2 linked regions of the Homo sapiens genome follow. The protein of the gene in region 1 interacts with the protein of each later gene in a pairwise test. Each region holds a gene or a part of one and is shown on either strand. Other genes may lie near its edges. The genes, in order: OSTF1 and HES7.

Region 1 (3,807 bases):
TGTAGTTATTTAAAAGAACCAGGAAGTTCTCCTGGTTCTAATATTTGTGTTGTATTGTTTGTTTGTTTATTTGAGACAGGGTCTCGCTCTGTCACCCAGGCTGGAGTGCAGTGGCACGATCTTGGCCTCCCAGGCTCAAGTGATCCTCCCACCTCAGTCTCCTAAGTAGCAGGGACTACAAACACGCACCACCAAGCCCAGCTAATTTTTTCATATTTGTTGTACAGAAAAGGTTTCACCATGTTGCCCAGGCTGGTCTCAAACTCCTAGGCTCAAGCAATCTGCCTGCCTGGGCCTCCCAAAGTGCCAGGATTACAGGTGTGAACCACTGTGCCTGGCCTGTACATTTTTCTGAAACTCCTTTAATTTGATAAGAGAATCTTGACACCTCACTCATATCAGCCCACTGAAAGGTGTCCCTGTATCATTTTTTTTTTAATGTAGTCTTTCCCTGTCCATTAAGCAAGTGAGGACAACTTTGGCAATGGGTTCTGTTATGCCCTGAGGTATAAGGTGTGTATTAGAAAATCTCACTGCACTAGTCACGTAAGTCAAATTGTGGGAATGCTGAAACGCCAAGGGAGGGGACCCCAGTATTTCCAGAAGGGAGGAATGCTTATCAGAAGCACATAACCTCCAGCCTTTGCTACTTTGTAGTAAAGCTACAAGAAAAGCCCAATCACAGTCTCTGAGTCCACCCCCACCTTCTTTCAGGGAAAAAAAAAAAAACCCACCTTTTTTTTGTATCAAAGCGTTTTACATTATCTGTCATTCATAACGATTTAGTGGCTGTGCAGTTACAAAGAAATAAAAGACTGTTCCACTCTCAAAAAGTGCATAGTTTAATGCTCTAATACGGATCCATTGAAAGAGGGCAGTTACACAAACCAAATACCAATAATACAACTGCATAAGCTAATAAAATGACTGTCCAACAAAAGCAGGTCCAACCCAATAACATCTCTGGCAGGTTTCTCTGCTCATATGCATGGACTCAATTAAAGCTTCTGTTCCACTTCCAGGTCACACCAACCACTCACTAGCTTTGAGATCTTAGATAGTTTACTTGACCTCATTAAGTACTACTTCATCCATAAAACAGGGATATGAGGACCCACCCACCTGATAGGAAAGTCAGAATAATTAAAGGAGACAGAGCATACACAGTGCTGGGTGCAGTGCCTGACATATGGGGCCAAATATATGTTAACCATTCCCATCATCATCATCATTGTGAAATTTTCAAGATGTTTCTCAGGCTTTATTCTGCCAACAGGTATAAAAAGTATCAAGTTTATAAAAGAAGACTATTCACGTGCATATTTCACCTCACTTTTGATTAATTCCTTTGTTGGGGTAAAAAATACATAAAAATTAAGTTCATTTTAGATAAAAACCTTTTTTTCTCAAAAATGTTATTTAAGCAGCATGCGTGTGATGTCTTTTAAGTTTTATGATGTTTTTACTCTGAATAACAAAAAAACCTGAAACACTGACATTTGCTTCTTCAAAGTTCCATGAATTTATTTTCACAAGGCACATGAAATATTTATGCTTTACTTTCACCACCAAAATCAATAAGCCATTTGGAAAAAATGGCCAAGGTCAGACACCAGGTTTCCAACTACAATAGATAGTTACCAAACCTGCTTAGAATGAGATGATTCTACAGCCCAAATCTCATTCAGTATCCTTTGGCCCATTCTTACTCTCAGAATAAAATATTTTTAAAAAGATTTTACAAGAACAAAAGTTCTGTTTTCTACACTTCTACACTCTAACAAGCCAGACAGATTCACGCTAATTGAACTGCAAGGCTTCTGAGAGTGGCTGAAAACAACATAAATGCTATATGTGTAAAACTAAGAGGTTGTACTCATTCAGAAAAAGGAAAGGAGGGTCTCAGCCAGGTTTGGTGGTGAGCATCTATAATTCCAGATACTCTGGAAGCTCAGGAAGGAAGAAGACTGCTTGAGCACAGGAGAGCAAGACCAGCCTGGTCAACATAGCAAAATCCCATCTCCAAAAAAAAAAAAAGAAAGAAAGAAAGAGAGAGAGAGAAAGAAAGAAAGAAAGAGGGTATCATAAAGAATGAGCTGAAGACCACGAAATTGCAACACATCTTAGTAGAGTACCATGGTGGCACAGATAACAGTTAAGGGAGAAAGTTTCAATGACAGACCTTGTGTGGCCAAAAGTGATTCTACAGAAACAAAATCAGTAAGCAAGGAAAGGTCAAACTGCGACAGAATTGATTTTTCAAGCAGAATGCAGGCAATACCGTATAGCCTTTTGGAAACATATGCCAACCAACAGCAAGACTTTTCAAACGGAAGCTGAGACGCTGTTCTGAGGGTAATTGTTTTTATTTTCTTTTTTGAAATGAAATGGATGTGAAGAAGAAAGAAACCTGAAAGAATATTCAACCAAATGTAAATAGTGATTATCAGTAGATGACAGGGATGATTCCTATATTTTAGTTATATATTTATTGTTTACCTTTTTCTAAATTTTCTAAAAATAAAAAAATTATATTTTTACTTACAAGCTTTTTTAAAAAAAACAAAATGAATGAGATCAGCCATCCACTTGTAAATATGGGATACTCTAGGTAATATCTGTAGATACATACGTCTTCCCCATTAGACTCAGGACCCTCGTGAATGACACCATAGATTATTGTTCCTGGGAACCCCAGTGTCTAGCACAGGGCCTAATATATGAGCTACATTTATTAAGAAACATTTGTTTAGCAAATGAATTCTGGATATGGCCAAAAACCCAAACAAGGTAACCCTGATCTATCCTCCAGATGGTACAAAAATGGCCAGGGTCTCCCACTAGCATCTGCCCGGGACTTCCCTGGGCAGCCTCCTTCCACAAATCGGCCCCCTGTTGGGGATGTGCTGATCAGCCAGAAAGATGCTATTAGCCTGCATTATAGCTTAATGTCCCTTGTTTTTAATATCTTCCAGCAAGTCCTTTGTCCTTACTCACCTAGCTCCTTTCCTTTTAGTATTGTCTACTGAATTGAGCCATGCTGTTTTGCCCAAATCTTGCTCTGAAAGAAGCTGTAAGAAACATGGCTAGGATGTTCTGTCTTGTATTTCTGCTAGAGATATCCAGGCCACTCCAATACTTTAAGAGAACCCACAGGAAAATCTGTCTCAGATCTCAATGCCATTAAAATAACTACTTTTCAGAGTAAGTGACACATTTTAATTTTATGAGCACTATGAATCTTGAGATTTTTCTCTCTGCTTGCAGCTGAGAGCCAAATCTACAGTGACCTTACTACACATGCAGGTCTGTCTGTAAGCTAGCTTTTCCTCTTGTTTCATCTTACTATTCTTCCCTTCCTCTAGATGACCATGCTTTATCTTTACTTTTTCCTCTCTCTCAGATCATGTGTATTTTTAGAAGTCCTTTTGGAATGAGGCAAGGTTTAAACAAACCAAAAAATTAAATACAACCCCAAAGCCCCCAATCCCATGCTGTCTTTGGAGATTTTTATCCATGCAGCTTGCCTGCAGGACAAGAAAGTAAAGCTCCACACCACTCTCCTTGCTGTCAACCAGGGGCTGACCTTTATGTGCATTTGTGACAAGAAAGTCTGTAGACCAGAGGCCCCTCCCTTTCGACTTCCTGACCACCAGCTCTAAAATACACATTTGACCGCCAGTGTGAATGGAGCACTATGACTTAAGGCAGAATAGCAAATGGTTAAGAGTGCAGACTTTGGCCAGGCACAGTGATCCCACACTTTGGGAAGCGAAGGAGGGTGGATCACAAGGTCAGGAGTTCAAG
Region 2 (4,279 bases), on another chromosome or scaffold:
TAGGGACTCGGGAAGGGACTGGGACTGGGCTGAGGGGCAGAGAGAGTACAATCCTAGACGCAAGGGAGAAGTTGGGGCAGGGAAAAGGGACAGGAACCAGGGAAATATATATTTATATAGATACTCTAATATAGACCACATCTCACCCGCGCGCTGAGCCCGCGCGCCCCACTGCCCTCCCCAACACCTGCTCGCCCGGACGCCCGGGTCCCTCTGCTGCCCTCGGGCTGGAGTCTCTACCCCACCCCTAGACCCCGCCCCCACCACCCCCCAAGGCTCAGGGCCAAGGTCTCCAGAAAGCGGGCGGCGGGGGCAGCGGGGCCTTGGGCGCCCCGTCTTGTCTGTGAGGCGGCGGTGGCGGCGGCAGCAGTCCGGTGAGGGGCGCCGGCGCGCCAGAATCCCCGGCGCGCGGGGAGCAGAGGGATGGGGACCATGCGCAGCGCGGGCTAGGGTGGCCCTGGTGCACTGGGGGGCGCTGGTGCAGCGCAGGGCCAAGGGCCGGTGCGGCGGGGTCCAGGGATGGGCGCGGCGCTGGAGGCCTCGGATCTACCGGCTTGGGCCGGGGCGGTTTGGGGCGCAGATAGCCGTGCAGCGCGGAGAAGAGCTGGGCGCGGGCGGCCGGGCTGGCGTCGTGCGCGAAGGCCGCCAAGCGAAGCAGGCACTCGCGGAAACCGGACAAGTAGCAGCTGGCGAGCGCCTCGGCGTCCTGGACTGGGGACCGGGGAACCCCTGGAGCCGCGGCGGCTGGTGCGGCCGGCGGGAGCACAGGTGGGCAGGGCAGGGGCCCGGCAGGGGTGAGGGAAGGGGCGGGGCGCAGAGATACCAAGGCCGGACAGGCGCACAGAGACAGGAAGCCAGATGGACGGAAAGAGGGAGAAAATGAGGGAGACACAGAGACAGACACGCGCGGGTGTTATTAACCTCGCCTCGGAGCAGAACCGGCCACTCCCCAAGCCCACCATCCACCGCAGGGCCCGCCCACTCTGCCCCGGCCGGAGCCTCCTGGCGTCCCCCCTCCCTCCCTCCGCTGCCCCACCCCCGCGCTGTACCCGGGGGCTCCACCCGGCTTCGCTCCCTCAAGTAGCCCACGGCGAACTCCAATATCTCCGCTTTCTCCAGCTTCGGGTTCCGGAGGTTCTACAGACGGGAGGGGAGGGCGCAGAGACAGAAAGGGGTGGGGAGAAAGGGGGAAAGTGGCAGGGGGAAGAAGGGAGGGACGGATGCGGGAGCTGGTGGTGCCCCCGATCGCATTTGCGCACTGCCCACAGAACGCGCGACCAAATGCGGAGTGGAGATGACCAAGGAAAGTCCTGGCCCACCCTGAGACGAAACTGTCCAATCCTAGGGGTTGGAACCAATGCCCAACGCGTGAGGAGGAGATTTGAAACCGCAACCCAGGGAATGAAATTAACCACCCGACATAACAGAGGCTGGCTCATCAGAGGCTGGCTGTGGGGGAGGGGGAACCGGACACTTAGAGACCCAAAGGGTGAAACTGACCGACCCCGGGAGCGAAATTTACAGAACCAGGCGTGAAACTTACAGACCCGAGGGGTGGCGAAGAAGATCGCGTTCTGAGAGCGAGTGGGGGTCTGGGATGGAATTCCAAAGGCGGGACTCGGGTGAGGATGCCTTGGGGCCAGGGTTGCCAACCAAGCTTGTGTCCCCACCCCAGTGGGAAGCCCTGGGACGCGGAAACGGGAAGCTTGGGGACCTAGGGCTAGCGGAGGGACTGACCTGGTCCCGGGTCCGCTCCAGCAGCAGCAGCCTCAGCTCTTCCAGGCTGCGGTTGATGCGGTCCCGGCGCCGCTTCTCCACAAGCGGCTTGAGCATCTGCGACCAGCGAGAAAAGGAGAGCGGGCCGACCAGACCGAGACTCAGTGCGGCCGCCCCGGCGTCGGATCCCGCCGCTGGGAGAGCCCGGCTTCCACCCCGGCCACAAGACCCCAGATTGCCTAGGGCCGGCCCCATTCGATCCCTCTCCGCTCCCCCTCCCAATGCCCCTAGATCAGTTTCTGTAGCTCGCCTCCCCGGATCTTCGCATTCTCCTCTCTCAGTCTCGTCCTCCCTCCTCCCCTCTCTGTGTCTCTCCTCCTCTTTTCTCTCTACGTCTCCGTCTGGTGCAGTTTCTCTTTGTCTCAGTGGAGAACTTTGGGGACTCTCTGCGCGCACGCACGTGCGCCGCACGGTGCCGGGCTCAGACCTGGCGGCCCTGAGTATAGAAAGGGAGATACCTAGCGCGACCGCGCCGCCTCTTTTCCCTCAAAACCCTCCAGGCCTTCACCTTCTCCACGGTTCTCCTAAAATCTTCCACCAGTCTGGGGCCTCTGGAACCAACGCCCCGGGACCTTCTGTACAAGACCGCCTTGGGCCAGCCCCGCCCGGCTCACAGCCAGAGTGGAGCAAGTGCCTATCCTCTTCTCTTTTCGTTCCCACCCTCCTCCCTTGGCTCTGCCCTCTAATTGCTTATTTTACTCCAACACCGGCCCCCTCCCCAGGCCACAAGGTGCCGACACCCATTACCGAGGCCCCTAGTCCTATGTTCCCGCCGCCCACTCAGGTCTGGCTCTGACCCCTGTCCCCTTCTTCATATTTTGCAGCTTCCTCTCCAGCTTCTGGCTCCTGGAGTTCTGGAGCACCGCTCCCCTTCCACCCCTGCGTCCCCAGCCTCTCTCCAGACCGACGGCGTCAGGGGCCCAGTCCCCTAGCCAAACCAGGGACCTCTGCTCCCTCCCCTCCCGCCTCTCACCTTGGGGCCGTCCCTATTCTCAGCTCGATCCCGGGTGACCATTGCTCCTCCGGACCCTGTGTGGACCGGTTCCCTGCTCGCCTGGAGCCTTATATTCCGCGGCCCAAGGGTAGGAGGGATAGGACCCGACCCCGCCCCCTTCGACATCCAGATTCTGCCCCTCTAGGACCCGGCACGAGGCTCCCGGAAAGAGGAGGAGTGAAGGGGGGAGGGGAAGGAGAGAAACTGGCCTGGGAGTGCGGGAAGTGAGGGGTGAATGGGGGCACTGGCTGGTTTACAGACCGTAAGGCTGTATAAGGAGGCGGGACCCAGCTGAAAGGAGGAGGCTATTGGGGCAGAGCTCGCTTGGGGATGAAATTCAGAGTTCCTCCAGAATTGCAGCTTTCTGGGAGGCTTACTGTACCCTCACTAACCCTGAAATAGAAGTTAGCACCTCTCAGCCCCCAGGCTGAATTTTATACATCATCTCCGAAGTTCGCTTCCTAGTCGAGACAGGGAGCAACCCGAGTGCGCTGGGTGAATCTGTCCGACTCAACCGAAGCTCTGCCGGGAGGTTGGAGAGGCGCTCTCTTCTATCTAAGCCAGTTACATTCAAGTCCGCGAACATCTGCGCGCCCACTCTGCGGACAGGGCACTTGTCTAGGCTCGGGCGAGTCATAGTGAGATACGCAGGAGAGACCCAGCTTATCCCTGCAGGATCTAATGGAAAAGACCATGTGACACCAAGTAGCTATTACAGAAGCCCAGTGAAGTAGGTGCTCCGGGAAAAGGTCTCCTTAAGGATGGCTGGACTGAGGAGGATCTTCAAGGCAGAGGGAGCAAGTCTTTGAAACATAGGTATGAGTGGAGAGGTCTTTCCACTTACAGTACAAGTATTTGATTCAAAACTAGTCATAGGAGATTCAGGAGTGTGGCTGATAGGACACCTCACGCAAGTGTGCCCGCATTGCTTGCTTCTGGAGGCCCCTGGTGACTGTAGGGTAGCAGGGAGCAGGCAGTTTACTAAGGGGAAAGCAAGGGGTACAAAAAAGGGATCAACACCCACCTCAAACCAAGAGCATGACCCTCCGCAGAACGATGCCTGACCACTCGAGGGCTTCAGGACAAAGTGTCTGAGAAGATAAATCAGAAACTGAAGGGAACAGCCAGGTTGCCAGGGATAAAGACACGGAAAGACAGGGTTGCAGACCGAGACGGAAGACAGCTGTGAAATCAGAGACCAATGGGGTTTCCTTCAAGCCCTCCCAACGGCCCTCCGCACCTTGGTTTTGTCACGAAGCCTTTCTTGCCATCATAGCCCGAGCCGGGAGAGGCACAGACCTTGAGGAGGGGGCTCCCATTTGGGATCAGGGCCCCCAGCACATCCCACCTCTCCGTCCTTCAGCCAAATGGGAACGCAAATGTGTGTCCCCATCAGCCCCCGCCGCCCCCCTCCTTGGGAACCTGGGCTCGGGCTGAATTTTTCTCACCTGCACGCGAGGCTGGGGGCCCCCGGCTGTTCGCACCCGGGTGTGGGGCCGCCCCTGGCCA

What was found.
Region 2: the proteins of OSTF1 (region 1) and HES7 interact in a two-hybrid assay, tested with the Homo sapiens proteins (one large-scale study listed by BioGRID).

What each region holds. Positions count from the first base shown.
Region 1 is NC_000009.12:75,091,295-75,095,101, reverse strand, and holds part of OSTF1 (osteoclast-stimulating factor 1), read right to left. Parts: intron 1-3,807.
Region 2 is NC_000017.11:8,121,294-8,125,572, forward strand, and holds the start of HES7 (transcription factor HES-7), read right to left. Parts: upstream 2,814-4,279; 5' UTR 2,792-2,813; coding exon 2,750-2,791; exon of another isoform or gene 1,972-2,749; coding exon of another isoform or gene 1,834-1,971; coding exon 1,738-1,833; intron 1,593-1,737; coding exon of another isoform or gene 1,138-1,592; coding exon 1,050-1,137; intron 745-1,049; coding exon 278-744; 3' UTR 1-277. UniProt on the Homo sapiens protein: Transcriptional repressor. Represses transcription from both N box- and E box-containing promoters. May with HES1, cooperatively regulate somite formation in the presomitic mesoderm (PSM).